Homo sapiens: one gene and its partners. The protein of the gene in region 3 interacts with the protein of the main gene of each other region in a pairwise test. Each region holds a gene or a part of one and is shown on either strand. Other genes may lie near its edges. The genes, in order: AP1M1, POGZ, SP4 and POU2F1.

What was found.
Region 1: the proteins of SP4 (region 3) and AP1M1 interact in binary tests that used the Homo sapiens proteins (3 or more experiments, as listed by UniProt).
Region 2: the proteins of SP4 (region 3) and POGZ interact in binary tests that used the Homo sapiens proteins (3 or more experiments, as listed by UniProt).
Region 4: the proteins of SP4 (region 3) and POU2F1 interact in binary tests that used the Homo sapiens proteins (3 or more experiments, as listed by UniProt).

What each region holds. Positions count from the first base shown.
Region 1 is NC_000019.10:16,220,468-16,225,454, reverse strand, and holds part of AP1M1 (AP-1 complex subunit mu-1), read right to left. Parts: intron 1-4,987. UniProt on the Homo sapiens protein: Subunit of clathrin-associated adaptor protein complex 1 that plays a role in protein sorting in the trans-Golgi network (TGN) and endosomes.
Region 2 is NC_000001.11:151,452,523-151,457,509, forward strand, and holds part of POGZ (pogo transposable element with ZNF domain), read right to left. Parts: intron 2,381-4,987; exon of another isoform or gene 1,505-2,380; intron 1-1,504. UniProt on the Homo sapiens protein: Plays a role in mitotic cell cycle progression and is involved in kinetochore assembly and mitotic sister chromatid cohesion.
Region 3 is NC_000007.14:21,472,110-21,477,096, reverse strand, and holds part of SP4 (transcription factor Sp4), read right to left. Parts: intron 19-4,987; coding exon 1-18. UniProt on the Homo sapiens protein: Binds to GT and GC boxes promoters elements. Probable transcriptional activator.
Region 4 is NC_000001.11:167,370,160-167,375,146, reverse strand, and holds part of POU2F1 (POU domain, class 2, transcription factor 1), read right to left. Parts: intron 4,987-4,987; coding exon 4,933-4,986; intron 3,231-4,932; coding exon 3,111-3,230; intron 1,040-3,110; coding exon 851-1,039; intron 1-850. UniProt on the Homo sapiens protein: Transcription factor that binds to the octamer motif (5'-ATTTGCAT-3') and activates the promoters of the genes for some small nuclear RNAs (snRNA) and of genes such as those for histone H2B and immunoglobulins.

The DNA of each region.
Region 1 (4,987 bases), on a different chromosome or scaffold from region 3:
CGTGCTGAGGGCACAGAGTGACTGGCAGAAGAATCGCTGGGGCTGCAGCCCTGGCCACCACTGCACACTGCTATGCTGCACGAGGCCATGCTCACACCAGCAAGTGGGCCAAAGGCCACCGACTTGGATACCTGGGCCCAGATGCTGGCTCCAGCCAGGCTAACATGTGCAGGGCCTGCATTTCCTGTCTGCAGAGTGGCAGGAGAGTCTGTGCAGTCTTATGCATGATGTCCAAAAAGCACTGGGTAGACAAACAAAAGCCCCTCACCAGCTTGCCGCCTCTGAGGGAATTGGGAAAACTGAGGTGCCAAGCAAATGACAGCCCTGGGAGGGGCAGGGAACCGGACATGGCCCCAAGGGCTCCGGTTCTGTCACCTTCCCCAGCCTCACCTCCTCGTGCTGTCCTGTCCTCATCTCGCAAGCGGCTCCCTGATCCCATGGTGCACAACAGCTTCCCTGCGTCTGCCTGCTTGTCTCTCTCTCTCTCTCCCTGCTGGGGGAAGCCACGTGGGGCTGCGCGCTGCCGTGTCCAGCACCAGAAACAGCGTGTGTGGCAGGAGGTGCTCAGTGGGCAAGCGGAGGCTCAGGAGCTCGGGACCCTCACTGGCCGGGGCTCCAGGAGCCCGAGCATTGGGATTTTGCCTGCCTCTTTCTCGGAGGGCCCTCCACTCCACTGTGACGGCCCCTAATTCCCCTTGGGTGCTGCCTCCCCCTCAGGGAGTTGGGACTGGCCCTGGCAGCCAGCTGTAACTGAACACATGAGGTCGTGAATGCCGCGAGAGCAGGCCCAGGGAGTGGAGCTGAAAAGCTGCCCAGCCCACGAGGCTGATCTCGGCCCTGCGGGCAGCAATCAGAACCTTCTCAGCTGAGGTGTGACCAGCCACGCAGAGCCGGTGCCCTTCCCAGGGCGGGTGCTGAAGGGATGCTTGCTCAGGGCCCGGCTGTGTAAGTACCAGGCTGCACTCAGATGATCGCATCTGGAGGCAAATGTTGACCCAGCCACCAGCTCTGCAAGCCACTTAGGAAGGTGGCATCCTGACAGCTGCCCTTGTGCTGACCTGTTTGGAGGAGTGGGATCCTTCCGGGCGGAGCCACATGCAGCAGCGCACTGTGGCGGGGACCCCCGCAGCCCTAGCGCTTTCCTGCTCGACTCTCTCTAAGCTGCCCCCTGGGACTTGCCTTTGCACCCCACAGCACCCAGATGGACCCTGTTTTCGGCTCAATAAACAATCAGACAAGAGTCCCCAGGGGAGAGGGGAATGTGGTTAGCGAGGCCACTGTCCCGTCCCGGAAAGTAAGAAAGCGAAGAGGTCTGCACGGAGTGCGCGAGACAGTCTTTCTGGGCAGCACTCTCCTTGGCAATTCCATGTCTGCAGCCTCAGTCCTCCAGAAATCCTGGCCCAGGTCACGGAGACACCCAAGTGCACACGTCTGGGGCTGAGCAAGCGTGCTCAATGCTGCACTGCCAGTGGCCGTCAGAAACGGGACCTGAGTGACCTGCATGACTGGATTGGCTGAGCCCATACAGTCCACCCACACCGCAGGGATGAGGCCAGCGTGAACACAAAAGAAAGCAAGCGGCTGGTGAGGCAGGTCGGCTGGCGCCCCTTCCCCTGCCACTGACTACAGCTCTGAAACCTGGGCAGGAGGCTTGGCAGCTGCCGGAAGACTGAAGACAGCAGCAGGTGGACCAGGGAAGAGCCACGAATGCAGAGTGTTCCCACCGCCCCCCACGAGAAAGTGCAGCAGCAATCTGGAAGCAGAAGTGTGCACCACAGAGCACACGAGAGCTCAGCAGAGCCTCCAGGCCTGGCTCTGGGGCCAGAAGAGGAACTCCTGACTCTCCTGGAAAACACAGAAGCCCCCCATCTCCCCTGTTCCTCATGCCCCAGGCCCTGTGGTGCCAGCTACTGTTCCGAGGGGGTGGGGCAACCGTTGTCCTTTTCTCTCTCTGTCCTCTCTCCATGTGGGCTGGGAAGTGGGCCCAATGGCAGACGTGTACAACAGTAAACCGCAAGGAATCAGAAAAGTACCAGGTAGACAGCACAGAGCCAGAAGCTCAGGAAAGTCACCCCATGAAGTGGTTTATGTCTCCAGAACTCTCTAGAATCGAGCATCTGTGAATCCTGTGCATATACCATAGTTTGACTTACGAAAGAGTTTGAGAACTGAACTAACCACTCGGGTCCCAGAATGACCACTGGGCAGTGCACGCCCAGGAGATCTGACCAGGAAATGGCACGGGGGCTTTAAAAACTGACGTGATGCTCATGGCCTACAGGTTGGGGATTGGAACTTGTGGCCTGAAAGTAAGATTGGCTGTTGGCTAAAACAAAAATATCAATATTTCCCATATAGCTTAAATAAGACCTAGAGTATCACCACATAATGCTCAAAAAGTCCAGGATGCAATCCAAAATTACTCAGCATACAAACAACCACGAAAATGTCAACTTGCCTGGAAAACCCAATCAACCACTGTCAACACTTCACAGATGTTGGGATTATCTGATGAAGACTTTAAACAGCTATTTTTAAAATTGCAAATGCTTGCAACAAATGTTAAAATAGAAAGTCTCAGCAAAGAAACAGATGATAAAGAAGAATCAACCAGGAGTTCGAGACTAGCCTGGGCAACACAGCAAGTCCTGGTCTCTACAAAATAAAAAATAAAAAAAAATTAGCCAGGCATGGTGGTGCGTGCCTGTGGTCTCAGCTACTCAGCACACTCAGATGGGAAGATCACTTGAACACACGAGGTTGAGGCTGCAGTGAGCTATAACTGCACCACTATACTCCAGCCTGGGCAACAGAGTAAGACCCTGTCTCAAAACAAAAACAAAAACAAAAACAAACAAAAAGAGAAGAATCAAATGGAAAATTTTTAAAAATATAGTAACTGAAATAAACAACTTGCTCAATGGACTTAATAGCAGAATGGAGGCCAGGTACAGTGGCTCATGCCTGTAATCCCAGCACTTTGGGAGGCTGAGGTGGGAAGATCACTTGCCCCAGGAGTTCTAGATCAGCCAGGGCAACACAGAGAGACCCTCATCTCTACAAAAATTTTTTTTTAAAAATTAGCCAGGCTTGGTGGTGCACACCTGTAGTCCCAGCTACTCAGGAGGCTGAAGCAGAAGGATCGCTTGAGCCCAGGAGGTTGGGGCTACAGTGAGCCATGCTTGCTCCATGGCTCTCCAGCCTGGATGACAGAGTGGGAACCTATCTCAAAAAAAAAAAAAATAATAATAATAATAGTAATAATAATAATAACAGAATGGAGATAAACAGGAAAGGGCCAAAGGACCTGTGAACTTAAAGGCAGTTCAATGTAAATTATCCAATCTAACAGAGAGAAGAAAAGATAGAATAAAATAAGCAGCCTCAGGGACACATGATATAATAACCAAAGGTCTTTCATGTCACTGGAGTCCTGAAGGAAGAGTAAAATGACAAAAACATATCTGAGGGCTGGGTGCGGTGGCTCATGCCTGTAATCCCAGCACTTTGGGAGGCTGAGGCAGGTGGATCACCTGAGGTTGGGAGCTTGAGACCAGCCTGATCGACATGGAGAAACCCTGTCTCTACTAAAAATACAAAATTAGCCAAGTGTGGTGGTGAATGCCTGTAATCCCAGCTACTCGGGAGGCTGAGACAGGAGAATTGCTTTGTAGAAAGTAAAAAAGTTCCTCTTCAAAGTTTCCCTTCTCACTAAAGAATAAATCATAAGTGTTAGAAATAATGTACATTCTATGTCCTTGTACTTTAACCGAAATATTTGTTTTAGACATAAAGGATGTTAGATATAAGGGAATGAGTACATTCTGTGTCCTTGTACTTTAACCAAGATATTTGTTTTTAGATGTAAGGGATGTTAGATATAAGGGAATGAGTCAACTTCCTCTTTTTCCTTTGTTCTCCCTTGCCTTTATCTATTTAGGAAAGTTTTAAGTTATTAGCCAGTCAGGTTTAGCTTAGATTGTGAGGTCTGGCTCCAGCCAATGGAGATAGGACACAGCAGCAGGGACAAGCTGCATAAGGGATAAAAACGGCTTTCCTCCTTTGTTCGGGTGTGCTCTCGCCATTGTTCCATCTGCGAGGAGCACCCTTTCTGCAGAAAGTAAATTTGCCTTGCTGAGAAAACTTTTTGTTTGAATGCTGATTTTTCCTTGTGGTACCGAGGAACAAGCATTCTGTTTCTGAATAAACATTTTACTTATAACAGCTTGAACCTGGGAGGCAGAGGTTGCAGTGAGCCAAGATTGTGCCATTGCACTCCAGACTGGGCAACAAGAATGAAACTCTGTCTCAAAAAACAAAACAAAACAAAAAAACAAAAAACCATATTTTAGGAAACAATGATTGATAACTTCCCAATTTGATGAAAGACATAAACTTACAGATCCAAGAAGCTGAACAAATCCCAAACAGTAGAAACACAAAGATGTGCACACCTCATCTAACTGCTGAAACTAAAGGCAAAGAAAAATCTGGAAAGCAGCCAGAGGACAATAATACATCACCTATAGGGGAATAAAGATTTGGGGGACTGTGGATTTCTCACCAGAAATGATGGATGCCAGAAGGAAGTGGTATAACATATTAAAGTGCTAAACAAAAACCGTCAATTCAGAAGTCCATATCCAGTGAAAATAGCCTTTAGGGATAAAGGTAAAATATAGAGACATTCTTAAAGGAAAGCCAAGGGAATGTGTAGCCAGTAGACCTCCTCTACAAGAATGGCTTTTAAAAAAACCTTTTTAGGGCTGGGCGCAGTGGCTCATGCCTGTAATCCCAGCATTTTGGGAGGCCGGGGTGAGCAGATCACTTGAGGTCAGGAATTTGTGACCAGCCCAGCCAACAAGGTGAAATCCTGTCTCTACCAAAAATACAAAAATTACCCAGGTGTGGTGGTACATGCCTGTAATCTCAACTACATGGGAGGCTGAGGCTGGAGAATCGCTTGAACCTGGGAGGCAGAGGTTGC
Region 2 (4,987 bases), on a different chromosome or scaffold from region 3:
ACTAGTATGCCAACTTTCAAAAAATATTTGGCATGGGCCAAAACATTAAAAATCATCCTGTCACCAGGCGCAGTGGCTCACGCCTGTAATCCCAGCACTTTGGGAGGCCAATGCAGGCGGATCACAAGGACAGGAGTTCGAGACCAGCCTGGCCAACACAGTGAAACCCCGTCTCTACTAAAAATACAAAAATTAGCCATGCGTGGTGGCTGGTGCCTGCAGTCCCAGCTACTCGGAAGGCTGAGGCAGGATAATCGCTTGAATTCGGGAGGCAGAGGTTGCAGTGAGCCAAGATTGTGCCACTGCACTCTAGTCTAGGCAACAGAGCGAGACTCTGTCTTAAAAAAAAAAAGTCACTCTGTCTAGGTGGTGGATAGTTTAAGTGTTCCTTGTAGAATTCTTTCACCCTTTTCTTTTTTCTTCTTTTTGTGATGGAGTCTCGCTCAGTTGCCCAGGCTGGAGTGATCTTGGCTCACTGCAACCTCCACCTCCCAGGTTCAAGTGATTTTCCTGCCTCAGCCTCCTGAGTAGCTGGGATTACATGCATGCGCCACAACGCCCAGCTAATTTTTGTATTTTTAGTAGAGACAGGTTTCACCATGTTGGTCAGGCTGGTCTTGAACTCCTGACCTTGTGATCCGCCCATCTTGGCCTCCCAAAGTGCTTCGGTTACAGGTGTGAGCCACTGCGCCCAGCCTCTTTCTCCCTTTTCGCATGCGTGAAATTTTCTTAATAAAAACTGAGGTGGGGTAGGAGGGAGTGGAACTACCTACTCATATCTTAGCTGTGATATTCTGTACTGCTACATTCCACCTATCTCTTTGGTATTTACTAAATAACTGGTAGCCTTGTTGGTTGAATTTCTTGATTTATTCCCAGGACCAATTTTCATGTAGCTTGTATATATACATTTCTCTTTTTTTATTTTTATGCATCCATTTTCACTTAATATACATTTCTTAAGACATAGCAAAATAGTTAAATAAGAAATAACAAATTAAGGTGGATTATGTAGGCTACCAAGGAGGTACATTACTTTCTTCCATTAATCCATTATTTGACATCTTGGTAACCTAGGTGGTTTCTCTATTTTGTAGTAATTGTAACATGATTTTTTTGTGCACTCAATAGGTTTTACTTAACACTGCAGGCTCACACAGAACTATTAGCAATACTCAGTCTCTTGTCTCATCCTTCAATCCATAATATGGGAGTACCAGATAAATACTCTCCTGGAGGGAAGGGGACTATTTCTTAAATGCTGGCGAATATGGTAGTCTATACTAAGGCCCTATATGATCAGCTAGTCAATAAAAGTCTATATAATTGTAAAGGCAAGATAAAAACAGACCTTTTAAAACAATATACTATTTAAAAGCAGCAAAAAGAATCCTGCAGATACACCTGTATACTTTTAAGGTATTTAATGGGCAGCAAATGTTGCCTATCTTCATCTCAAAGAAAATGAGAAAAAGATCTGTTTTCCACAACTATCCTGACATACTTGGTTCTTGAAAGCTCTGAATTCCTTTGTCTTGTTCTTTCATAGCTGTAAAGTCCAGAAATGAAGAATGAAGAATTCAGAAATGAAGAATTTGGTATCTAACGTTTTCAACTTACTGCCAGTACATACCTGCCCAAAAATCAACATAAAAAGAACATTTGGAACAGGAAAAATATTTTACAGAAAACAAACATTTTAAGAATACCACTTTCTTGTTCCAGGGTGAAAAATAAACAATGATAATCCTCAACATAACTGGTAATTATGTTTTCAAGTTACCTCAATTTTTGGCTCTAAAAAGGACTAATACCAGAAAACCTATAGGGCTGAATACTTAATCTGTGTATAAAACTATAGTTAAACATGTAATAAGCTTTTATTTATCCAGTCTTTTGCACAGCCCATTTTGTCCCTCACAACATCTGTTATAGTACCTCATATGTAAGAATCATAAGGGTTTTAAGTAGTCTTAATAACCTAAAATTTCCAAACTCAAAATACTTTCCTCTTGTCTGGTAGCCAATCCTGTATCAAGAAACACCCAAATATTTAGTTCTGTGCTCTTTACTAAAACAAGTAAGCAACAAGTTCTCTTCTTTAAAGGGGTTCAATATTCAGGAGTCCCTTTCCCAAGAAAAATATCTATACTATGATGGAAAACTTTTCTTCAATGACAGCTGTGTGTTGCCTAAATTCCATTTCTATGCTTTCAATTTCTTTTAACTCTGCTAACACCTAGCAATAGGTTAGTGTCTCTTTTCTGCTCTCCTCCCCTTGGTTACATATAAAAATACGTTTTTCAGTTGGGCGTGGTGGCTCACGCCTGTAATCCCAGCACTTTGGGAGGCCAAGGCGGGTCGATCAAGAGGTCAGGAGTTTGAGACCAGCCTGATCAATATGGTGAAACCCCATCTCTAGAAAAATACAAAAATTACCCAGGTGTGGTGGCGCGTGCCTGTAATCCCAGCTACTGAGGAAGCTGAAGGAGGAGAATCGCTTGAACCCAGGAGGCGGAGGGTGCAGTGAGCCGAGATTGCGCCATTACGCTCCAGCCTGGGCAATAGAGCGAGACTCCATCTCAAAAAAAAAAAAAAGACAAGTTTTTGTGAATATGGCTTAATATCACAAACAAGAATACCAAAGAATCTATCAAAATGTTACCATATTGATATTATGGCAAAGGCATTAACCAGCTCTAGGATTTGTAATCAACCAGCTCTAAAGTTTTTATTTTACAGATAAGGTCAAAACAGTGGTTTAGAGAGACGAAGTAACTTCCTCAAGGTTACAGTTAGTAAATATCCCAGTTAGGATTCAAAGCAAGCTTTTTTTGCTTTAGAATTCTTCCCCAGGTCACTGCCTCTTCCATCAACTTCAACTATTTATAAATTCTCCCAAGTTCCCCAAGGGAGTTAGATTTGAATGATGTAAAGAGCAGAAACATAGGACTGACTGAATGATTCTCATTTTTTTGACTCTTAAAATTATTGAAGACGCCAAAGATCTTTTGTTTATGTGAATTTTATCTTTCCACATTTACCACAAATTTTTAAAATGTAGTATTTATCAATGTATTTTAAGACAAGCCCATTATAAGTTAACATAAATAACATTTCAACAAAAAATACTTTCCCTCCAAAAAGTGAGAAAAGTAACGTTGTTTTGCATTTTGCAAATCTCTTTTATGTCTAACTTGATAAAAGATGGTTGGATTCTCACAGTTACTTCTGCATTCAGTCTGTTGCTATATGTAGCTTTGGTTAAGTATATAATGAAAATCTAGTCGGAAAAGGGAGAAGTATTTTAATAACCTTTTCAGATAACTGTGTTTGGTAAATACTAAAACTCAACAAACGGTAGTTTCTTTCTTTTTTTTTTTTTTTTTTTTTTTTAATAAATAGAGACAGGGTCTCACTATGCTGACCAGGCTCAACTCCAACTCCTGGGCTCACACAATCCTTCCACCTTGGCCTCCCAAAGTGCTGGGATTACAGGAGTGAGCCACCACGCTAGGCCAAATAGTAGTTTCTTAAAGGACAGTTAACATTTTGGAATCTGAAACCACATCAATCCACTTTTTTACTGTTAAAATCCATTGCTATGTCTGGAATTTTCAAAGGATCTTTTGCCTTTGCTTGATTTTGCAACATCATGCATTGGTCATTTGCAAAGCCTAGATTTACTGAGTTATGCCCATCTTCCAAATAACATATTTCATTAAACAACATTTTAAAATATTGCAGTCCTTAACCACTGATATCATAAGGAAAGTCTTTTAAGTACTAGGAAGCTGTCAAACTCCAGCTGTCAACTTTTTAAAAATTCTAATTTTCACCCAAATTTTATCACTGGTAATAAATACTGTCAGTTGTTTTCCTAAAAGTGACAAGCTCACTTCATTTTCAAGAAATATCTGCCAAATACTAAGTGTGAAAAACCATAGTCTGCTAGTCGTTCTTTCAAGTAAAAATGCTACTCCATGAAATAAGCCATTCATTCACAACCCAATCTCACAAATGCTTTTCCTTCATGACAACAATCACACCTCCCTAGGCAGCATAAATGCTTTATCCATGTTTATTTAATCACAAATTCTTAAAAATTAAAAAGACATGTAGTCAAAAGCTAAGACTTAATAATAATAGGCCGGGCACGGTGGCTCATGCCTGTAATCCCAGCACTTTGGGACGCCGAGGCAGGTGGATCGCCTGAGGTCCGGAGTTCGAGACCAGCCTGGCCAACATGGCGAAACACTGTCTCTACTAAAAATACAACCAGGGAGGAAGAGATTGCAGTGAGCCGAGATAGTGCCACTGCACTCCACCCTGGGCGACAGAGCAAAACTCCGCCTCAAAAAAATAAAAATAGAATAATAAATTTTACTGCTTCAAGGGCATTCTCAAGTAGTTTGGTGCCCCTGACTTGCTTTGTGCTAAGGTACCGCCAGTAGTTTTACCCAGCCTTGCTTTTGAACCATCAGTGTATCAGTGAAAACAATAAATAGCATCTTACTATTATTTTGAAAATAGTTATGACCTTGAGGCTACCCTGAAAGGGTAAGAGGAGATCCCCATGGGTCATCTGTCCACACTTTGAGAACTGCTTTCCTACATTATACCACTAGTTCAAGATGGGAGTGGAAACTCTAACTAAATCAGGTTCGTCCCAAGAGTCCATTCTGTTACCTCCTTTAGTTTGAGATACACCACCAACACAGCTCTGGAAAAGGGAAGGAAATCAACGGCACAAGGTGTCACTTGTTTCAACATCTTGAACACTTTTATGTTAGACCAGTAATTCTCAATGTAGTGGTTACATTAATCAGTCTCAGCCCCAGGACTGCTCATTTGAAAATGTAAAGATGACAACCCCCCTCTGCTCCATTCAAATAAATTTGGGGGATGAGGCCCCCCAAATTGTACGTTTAACCACCTTCAAGTTACTTTTTATGCACCCCGAAGTTGAGAACGATTGTGCTAACAG
Region 3 (4,987 bases):
CTTGTCCTTGCTGCTGACCTAAAAAGGAAGAAAAAAAAGAAGTATTGTAATGTTTTCTACACCTAAAGAAAGGATTAAAAAAAAAAATCTATGTGCATAATAAATTTTTTCTAACAATCTGTGTAAAGTACAAAAACTAAGGGGTTAATGGCTTATACTATGTCAATCCTTCTAAAATATAGTATTCTTACTTTAGTGGCTCAGGTTGCCTATGTATCTAGATAACGGAACTATATACATACATCATTTAACTCACTTTGTGGCTTAATTTCTCTCTCCATCTGTAAAATGAAGATAATACTTGCCACTTACCTACTCACTAAAATACTATGAGGATACATGAGATAGTCTAAAAGCATTTTGAGATCCTAAAAGATGTTATATAAACACAAAGCTTTATTACCATTTCCACGGTAAGCAACATATCTTATCATAACAAGAAAATACAGGAGTGAAAAGTCACTAAACAAAGGATTAAGTTTTATGGACATCTTGCATTCCTAAATAGTTTAAATAAACATCTCTTTATTGATTCGACTTTTTTTAGTGTATACATAAAGTGGTTTTTGAAATGCAAAACCACCCAAGATTACTACATACTGTCACTGTAATCATAAAAAGACATTTAAGATATTATTACTTTATTCATTCATGTTATATAGCTTAGACTTCATCACTCAGATTAGTATATATACCAGCTTGGCTTCTTCACTTTGGGAAAAATATAATAAATAATGCACAATAAAACAACAATAAAAAAATCTATTGGCATGGCTTAACATTATCCTGAAATACAATGCTTTTTTTTTTTTTTTTTTTTTTTGAGATGGAGTCTTGCTCTGTCGCCCAGGCTGGAGTGCAGTAGCACGATCTCGGCTCACTGCAACCTCCACCTCCTGGGTTCAAGCAATTCTTCTTCTTCAGCCTCCCTAGTAGCTGGGATGACAGGCGTGTGCCACCATGCCCAGCTAATTTTTTTTGTATTTTTAGTAGAGACAGGGTTTTGCCATGTTTGCCAGGCTGGTCTCAAACTCCTGACCTCAGGTGATTCACCTGCTTTGGCCTCCCAAAGTGCTGGAATTACAGGTGTGAGCCACCGTGCCCGGCCTACAATGCCTTATAATTATCTTTTCTTTCACACAGTTCTACATTCTCTCCATCAGGTGTGGGAATAACAAGTATGTGAATGGACTGAAAAGAAAATACCAATTTATGAAAGAATGTTTCTACCTCAGAAAGTTGATGTAAGTATTAAGTAAATTTACAAATCCTCTACCAGAGTGCTGGCACGGAATTGCTCATTACATGGTAGCTACTGTTACCAATTCATCTCTGCTGAGTTCAGTGGCAATACAAGAATAAAATATGTCACTTTGGGAGGCTGAGATGTCAGATCACAAGGTCAGGAGATCGAGACCATCCTGGCTAACATGGTGAAACCCAGCCTCTACTAAAAATACAAAAAATTAGCCGGGCGTGGTGGCGGGCGCCTGTAGTCCCAGCTACTCGCTACTCAGGAGGCTTAGGAAGGAGAATGGCATGAACCTGGGAGGCAGAGCTTGCAGTGAGCTGAGACTGTGCAGCCTGGGCGACAGAGCGAGACTCTGTCTCAAAATAACAATAAAATATGCTAGCAGAAACAAACATACCGGTCCTGCATACAAAATAAAAGGGTTTCTTTCAGGCCAGGCGTGGTGGCTCAGGCCTGTAATCCCAGCACTTTTGGAGGCTGAGGCAGGTGGAACACGAGGTCAGGAGATGGAGACCATCCTAGCTAACACGGTGAAACCCCATCTCTATTAAAAATACAAAAAATTAGCCAGGTGTGGTAGCACACACCTGTAGTCCCAGCTACTTGGGAAGCTGAGGCAGCAGAATCGCTTGAACCCGGGAGGCAGAGGTTTCAGTGAGCCGAAATTGTGCCACTGCACTCCAGCCTGGGCGTCAAGAGTGAGACTCTGTCTCAAAAAAAAAAACAAAAAACAAAAAACAAAAAAAGGGTGGGGGAGGTTATTTCAAAGCTGCACATGTAGTACCTTAAATGTATGGGGCAACCAAGAAGAGGCAATAAAAAGTACCAAGTAAGAAAACAGTACACATTTTCTAAACAAAATTAAACCTCTGACTCTCCCAGCCAAAGTCAATCTCACTCTCCTCTGCGTATCCACAGCACCGTTAATCCTTCTGGTAGCACCCATAACTAACATGCACATTAAAAAATTTATTTTGTCACTGTTTTAGTAAGGATACAAACCCTCTACTAAAATTTACATTTTTGTACACCTTTGAATTAGCATGGTGTGGTAAGTAAAGCAATGCAAGTGAAGTGAGAGTTGTAAATTTATGACTGTGCACTCAGAGATCCTCAGTTTCCTCAACTCTAAAATAGTAACACTGACTTCCATAAAATTTCTGCTCCCTATCTACTTTAAAGAGCTGTTCCTGAGGATCAAGTTGATTTTCCAGGGGTAAAGGCTATATAAATTATAAAGCAATACATAAACAAAAGGTATAATTATTTTGTTTCAGTGTTTTTGAACATGTATTCAGTAAAACTAGATGGCTTAAGGATGACCTTGGCTACAAAATCTATTCAAACTACTTGTGTACCAAGAAGCACAGTGATACACACACTTTGTTTACTGCAAAAAATGCATTTCTAGAAATGAGAGTACTGTCTGAACAAGCACTATACAAAATCTACAGCATGGTCCCTATGGAGCTGCAGGTATTTTAAGTTGGTAAGTACCCTTTACATCCCCTGAAGACACAGGTATTTTTGGCCGTGATTCTCTGACTACTTTTCTCATAACATTTATATAACAGTCATTACTTTAAAGGTCGCAATAATATTTAAGATGACCTTTATTTTGGTAAAGAACTGCTAGATGAGTTTCAAGTCAAAGCTAAGTCTGGGGGTGAGGGGTGGGGAAGAACTGCTAGAGATTCCTGATCCCTCTGGTCCCCTGACCATGTCCTTGACACACTCCTCAAGCCTCCATATTGTGAGCATTTCTTTGTTCAATGCCTAAACAACTTGGAAAGTTATTTCAATGAATAACAGAGGCAAATTATATTTGAGTTTGTATATTGAAGCCCGTTAATTGACTTCATCTAGATGTTTCACAGACAGCTAAGTTCAACATACTGCTTTATTTCCACTGCCATCAGTAAGCCACCAAACTCCAGAGCAAGACCTCCGAGGCCCCACTTAAGTTTAATTCTATTGACTTCTCAGAGCTCATCTCTATTAGTCTCTCCCTTGCTCACTCTGCACCTGATATACTGGCCTCTCTTCTGGCCCTCAAATAAATCAAGCTCATTTCCTTCTTAGGGACTTTGCATATACTCTCCAGTCTAAGTGGGGATGCCTTTGCACCCAGATCTTTGCATAGTTGATTCCTTTGTAATATTCTGGTCTGAGTTCAAATCTCTCCTCTTTAGAAATGCCATTCCTGACCATCCCATCTAAAAGCTCCCCTCAATATATCACTGTATCATCACCTAGTTTTGTCTTATTTGTCTTAAATTACTTTGTCCTTTTATAATTTGGTCTTCACCTCACTTCTGAAGGTAAAGTGCCATGAAAGTAGGGATCTTGCCTATTATGTTCACTGCTGTATCTCTAGTACCGTAACAGTGCCTAATAACTCAATAACAGTGCCACTCAATAGCATATGCTTAATAAATCAAAGTTTAAAAATAAAAAATGATTTCATCTTCCAGTCTTGCTTCTGCTAATGTCCCTGTTTCAGTAAATGCTACCCCTATTCTCCTTGTTATCCACACTGAAAACCTTAAAATGTCATCTTTTAGGCTACTTCTTTACTCATTACATCCAGTGATGACCAAATTTTGAAGACACTACTGCCTAACAGCTCTTACGCTAACCTGTTTCCAAGCAAGATTATCATCTTGATCCAAGCCCTTGTTCAATCTGTGCCTCTACCAACCTAAATTGAGCTTTCCCTCCTTTCTCATCCTTCACACTGCTGCCAGAAAAATAAAAAAGTAGTGTTCTGATCATCTCACTTTCGTGCTCAATAACATTTAATCATTCTTCCACCGACCAAAGTCTGGCATTCAAAGCACTCTACCACAAGGACTTACTCAGCTCCTGGTTCACAGTCTTCCTTCTAATGACCAAATCTATTGTGCATTTTTTCAGTGACCATTACAGGACTGCTCTGCTGCATTTGACACCACTCGCCACTCCATCCTTATTCAATTTTGACTCTGTGAGCTAACTTCCTACATTTCAGAAACCCCTTCTTCTCTGTTAGCTCCTTTTTGTTTGGTTGCTTTTTTTTTTCTTTTTTTTTAAGAGATGGGGGTCTCACTCTGCTGTTCAGACCAGTCTTGAACTCCAGGGCTCAAGCAATTCTCCTGCCTTGGTCTCCCAAGTAGCTGAGATTACAGGCATGCACCACCATGCATGGCCTTAGCAATTTTTTAAAATCAGCACTTAAATCTAAATTTATGTCACTTTCTGAAAAGATTTATCAGCCAGGTGCAGTGGCTCACACCTGTAATCCCCGCACTTTGGGAGGCCGAGGCAGGAGGACTGCTTGAGCCCAGGAGTTCAAGACCAACCTAGGCAACGCAGTGAGATGCCATCTCTTAAAAAAATTAAAAAATTAGCCAGGCATGGTGGCATGTGCCTGTAGTCCTGGCTACTCATGAGAATGAGGTGCTGAGGTGAGAGGATCACTTGAGCCCTGGGGATCAAGACTTCAGTGAGCCGTGATGGCACCACTGTACTTCAACTTCAGCCTGGGTGACAGAGAAAGTCCCTCTCAAAAACAAACAAACAAACAAACAATCAAACAAAATACACCCTCTACTCTTCCTAGGCCACTCTCCAGGGTTCTGACTTCTCATTCTAACTCTCTTCTTGGGGGACCTCATCTACTTTCATAACTTTTACTGCTATGTGTAAGCTGATTAACTCACAGATCTGTGCCTTCCACTCAGAAGTGTCATACTC
Region 4 (4,987 bases), on a different chromosome or scaffold from region 3:
CTTCATATATTTTACTGATATATCTACTTATACCTTTTTCCTCTTCTTGAGATTAAAGATTTTATTTATTTTCCTCCTTGGTACTATTGTGTATGCTTCTTAATTTTTTTTTTTTTTAGTGGCGCGATCTCGGCTCACTGCAAGCTCCACCTCCTGGGTTCACGCTATTCTCCTGCCTCAACCTCCCGCGTAGCTGGGATTACAGGCACCTGCCACCACACCTGGCTAATTTTTTGTATTTTTAGTAGAGATGGGGTTTCACCGTGTTAGCCAGTATGGTCTCGAACTCCTGACCTAGTGATCCGCCCGCCTCGGCCTCCCAAAGTGCTGGGATTACAGGCGTGAGCCACCGCGCCTGGCGCTTCTTAAATAAATTTTTATTATCTCTAGATACTTTGCCCTAAAATGTGAAAATTGAAACCAAACAACATTCTAATGCAATAATGTTAATCACTCCATAGCAGAGATGACTCACTGTCTCACACATGGGTGGCAACATTCACCGCAGAGCACATGAAAAAAAATCCATGTCTGCTGTAATTAGCTAATTAAAATAAATACAGTAATCCCCTGCTTCAAAAATATGCCAGCTAATTATTCAAGAATTGTCACTTAATATAAAGTCAGTTATTCAAATAATCAGCTATATGTTTACAATATCAACTACAATAAGCAAACAAACATTATTTCTAATTCAGTGGTAAGGAAGGGTACCGCTTACCTCACTGATCTAGAGCTCCTCAGGCAGTTAAGGCCCCACACTAACAATCAAAAAGTTAATCTAACATTAAATAAAACCTGCCACTTTATTCCTCACTTGCTGCCCCAGCTATTGGAGTTCCTCACTCACCTGTGCGATCTGTATGGGCTGAGACAGGGGGATCTGCGTCATGGGCGTGGCAGCAGAGGCGGAGATGGTGGCTCCAGCAGCACTGTGCTGCTGGCTGGCGGAGTGCTGCTGCACTGCAGCAGCCAGCAGCTGTGCCTGTGCCTGTGCCTGCTGGAGTAGTAACTGTTGCTGGGCAGGCGTCAAAGTAAGCTAAACAAAACCAGAACACATTATGGGAAAGTGTTGAAGGAGAAAGTCTCCTAATGCAAGCCAACTGCTTTAAAATAGGTAACTCAAATGATATCAGTCCCCAGCTACCCAACTTCACTTGCTTAGCAGACAGCTAAAATGTTCATCAGTGATCAAACTACCATTACTAGCAGAACATTTAAATTAAAATGGTGGTCCCCACTATGGACTTAATCATTCAAGCTTGTCCAGGGCCCTAGGGTTTGGGCAAAAAAGTAATTAACTAGTAAGCAAGAAAAAAAAAAAAGAATCACCACTGACAAGATATGAAAATACATTTACACACAACCAAACAGCAAGTGATTAGTCAGATGAATGAGGAACAAGGATGCTGGATATAACCAAGGAAAGAACTGATAAGGCCCAGCTGCTTCCCATTAGCATGAATCCCTGCCATATTCCATCATTTCCATTAAGTCCAAAGATATGACTAAAGAATATGAGCTCCATTTGTTTCTTTTCCAAGTCTCCCTACAGGCCCCTCCCTAACACAATCTTTTCTGTTATTGAAAGCACTGAGTCTCTGCAACTTTACATCTCCTTTCCAACACATTATCTCTATGAAACAGGTGGTGATAGCCGTTCTCTTTACATGCAAATGAACCCTAATGCCCAGGTTTAACAGAAGCTCCAGCCAAAGGAACCTAGAATCCCAACTCCCTCTTACTATTGTAGACACTAGTCACCAAAAACAAGACCCAAATAGTAAAGTAGGAAATGTATTTAGAGCATATTTAAAGTTGTTTTCATAATGCAACTTATTTCAAACACACTTAAAGTAGTAAATGTGTTCTACTTTTCTTTTGGTGACAAGTTCTGATTGATCAAACAAGATGGAACCATAATTTTCTGAAGTATATGTACAGTCACTTAGTGCCACAACCTCCTCTAAAAGAATCAAACACAATTTGTGCATTAGAAACATAAGGCTCAAAACCAAACCATTCAAAAACTCAATACCCTTCAAGGGATATGTGTGTATATAAAGTATAGATATATTTTTAATTTTTACATAATATATATATACATACATCTCTACTCATGGGATTTTGTGAACAATTTTGCAACAGTTCTTAAAACAGTTGTCCACTGACAAAACACACTTAACTGGGAAAAAAAGAAAGAAAGAAAGAAAGAAAACAAAAAACCCTAGGAAATTCTTGGGAGTTAATGTGATGTGAATTGAATAAAAACTATTCCTTACCATTGCCCTAAACCAACCCCCACAAAGATAATTTAATACACAAATTTTCAACATTGGAAAAATATTTTGAATGGTGCCTTAGAGAAAAGACAGCTGAAAACTTAAAAGCTTAATATAGCCAAACAGGCCAATTTATTAACCATAAAAAATAAATGACAGAACGTCTCAGCCTTTTGGCTAAGATCAAGTACAAAAATAAACAATATTTGTTGAATGCTACATGCCAAGCACCGTTCTATAAGTTTTACATGTATTATCTCCAATCTTTACAACAGTAATGTGAGATAGGTATTATTAGTATCTCCATTTAACAGAAGGAAAACAGGTAGAGGGAAATGAAGTAATTAGGCCATACGGTAAGTTGCAGAGCTAGGATATGAAGCCACATGCTTTATTTTAGATCATTACACAGTAACTTAAAGAAAAATGTTTTTCTTTTGCAGGTACTAATCCATTCTTTAACTTCTACCCTGCAGTGATGTCTTAATGCCAAATGGATAACTGCCATTTTCAGTGTAATGATCTCAACCATATGATAATTACTCCATTGCATGATGAAGCAACACCTGAAACAGGGGTTTAATAAGGTTTTTAATTTATCCAGAGCATCCACAATTCTAATAAAAGATATCCTGAAAACTTACGACAAAGATAATTCCTTTTTCAGAGCAACTTACTACCTACAGTGTAGGAAGTTCCTTAAAGACACAATAGTGCCAGGCATAGCCATGTTACTACCAGCTATGGTGAACAATTCTAATCAGCTATTGGCCAATGGCAGTTCTGACACAGAAAAAGTTTGTTATAATTCTCTCAGTGAACACTTACCCCAGTTATCTGTCCTCCAGCTAGCATAAGCTGGGTCTGGGGAATGGCTGCCTGCACTGAAGGCTGCTGGGAAGGCTGGCTTGGCTGCTGCGAATCCCCCGATTCTTCATTAGATTTAGACTGAGGTGGGGTGGGTAGGAAATAAAAGATTGCAAATGGTTGATTAAAAGAAATGTACTTAAAACCCCATCTTTTAGGAATCATTTAAAACATGAGCTTATTCAGTCATGAGTTCTGGTTTACCTCCTTTCTTTTATTTGTATTTTCCTAGTTTCACATACCAAGTTTTTAAACTTGTTAATTCTAATGCCAGCAAAGCTGCTATTACAATTTTTAAAAATAAAGTCATCCCCCACAAATTTATAGATTTTTTTCATAGCCCCCAATTCCTCAACTCTAGAAATAGGGGGTAAAGGGAAGAATATATTTTCAATTCACCTCTACATTAGACCTTCCAAACCAATATTTTAACATACACCTGGTGGTCAGTCTGAAACTTCTCCATATACCATCTCAGAGAATGATCACTTGATCCACAGAACTTTCCACCTAATATTTTACAGAACGGTAAATCTAGCAACTCCCATCAACTAACACACAAGCTCAGAGAGAAAATGCTGCAGTCAAGAGAGAGGGGCACGAAGAGAAAATTTTACGGTAATTAAAACTGGTTATGCAAAGCATTAAAATTCTGCATAGATTTGCATATTTCTCACCACCTGTTTTGGGGACTGCAGCAAGGCTAATTAACATAAATGCTCTGATTAATTCTGCCAGTCATTGAGAGATAATTACAGTGCAGGACTGTAAACATTCTGCACTGGAGATACAGCCTGTTTGCCAACATCTCTCTAAGGGATGAAAGTTTACCATGGCAACCAAGGCAATTTTCCGCCTCCTCTCCCTCAGAAAGTAAGGTCACATTATCTCTTTTTCTTTTCTCTCCTTGTTCCTACGTGTTACTAGGTCCATATTCAACTGGGTTTCATGAAATGCTCAACCCAAGGTCTTTAGTCATTAGCAACACTGAAATCAATCTTCCATAATACTGTCTTTCCCTCTTGACTGCTAGTTACCTAAACACTATAATGAAAGGAACCAGCAGGTTGATAGAAATATTAAGAGGGCAATGTCTAACACTTGAACTTTGCATGTTGTGCCATATGGTTCAAAGAAGGAAAGTGGCCAGATTTAAGTTTTAAGATTTTGATTGTCTATCCACCAACATCTACAAACAGGTTTAATTACAATTATTAGAAGCCTAACATTTTAGGATGGAGAGGAACCCTGGCAATCTTATAAATGTCCCCACTTAAGTACAGATGAGAAAAACTGAACCCAAGGAGGTTATGTGACTTGCCAAAGGTCACACAGCTAGTCAGTGGCAGAATGAGAATGCAAACCTAAGACCCTTGTGTCTCAGTCCAGTGTTCTTTCCTCTTCCCTATAAGGTCTCCCTAAGACATCAAAAATGATAAATAACAAGTCTTTTGGAAACAAACTGGCATTTAAGAGAACTTTCAGGCTGTGTGTTTAGGTATGTGTTATAGCAGTATAACTTAGAAACATTTTTACTGAACTTACACATACAACTTTGAAAGTAGACTTTTCCTGTCCATTTTTGGTTCATGCACAGTAGCATAATATAAAACTGATTTTCATTAATGGTAATAATTATCATTATTTGAATCTTCACGAGATTCACTAATTTTGAAAAGGTAATACTTCTAAGCATTTCCTATTATAAAATATATGCTCACTACAGAAAAATATAAGAAAAAATAAATAAAAGATTGACCCATAATCCCAGGTCCCAGCTTACCTGTACATTTAAAGACTGAGCAGCAGCCTGTAAACTTGTTCCAGCGAGTTGGACC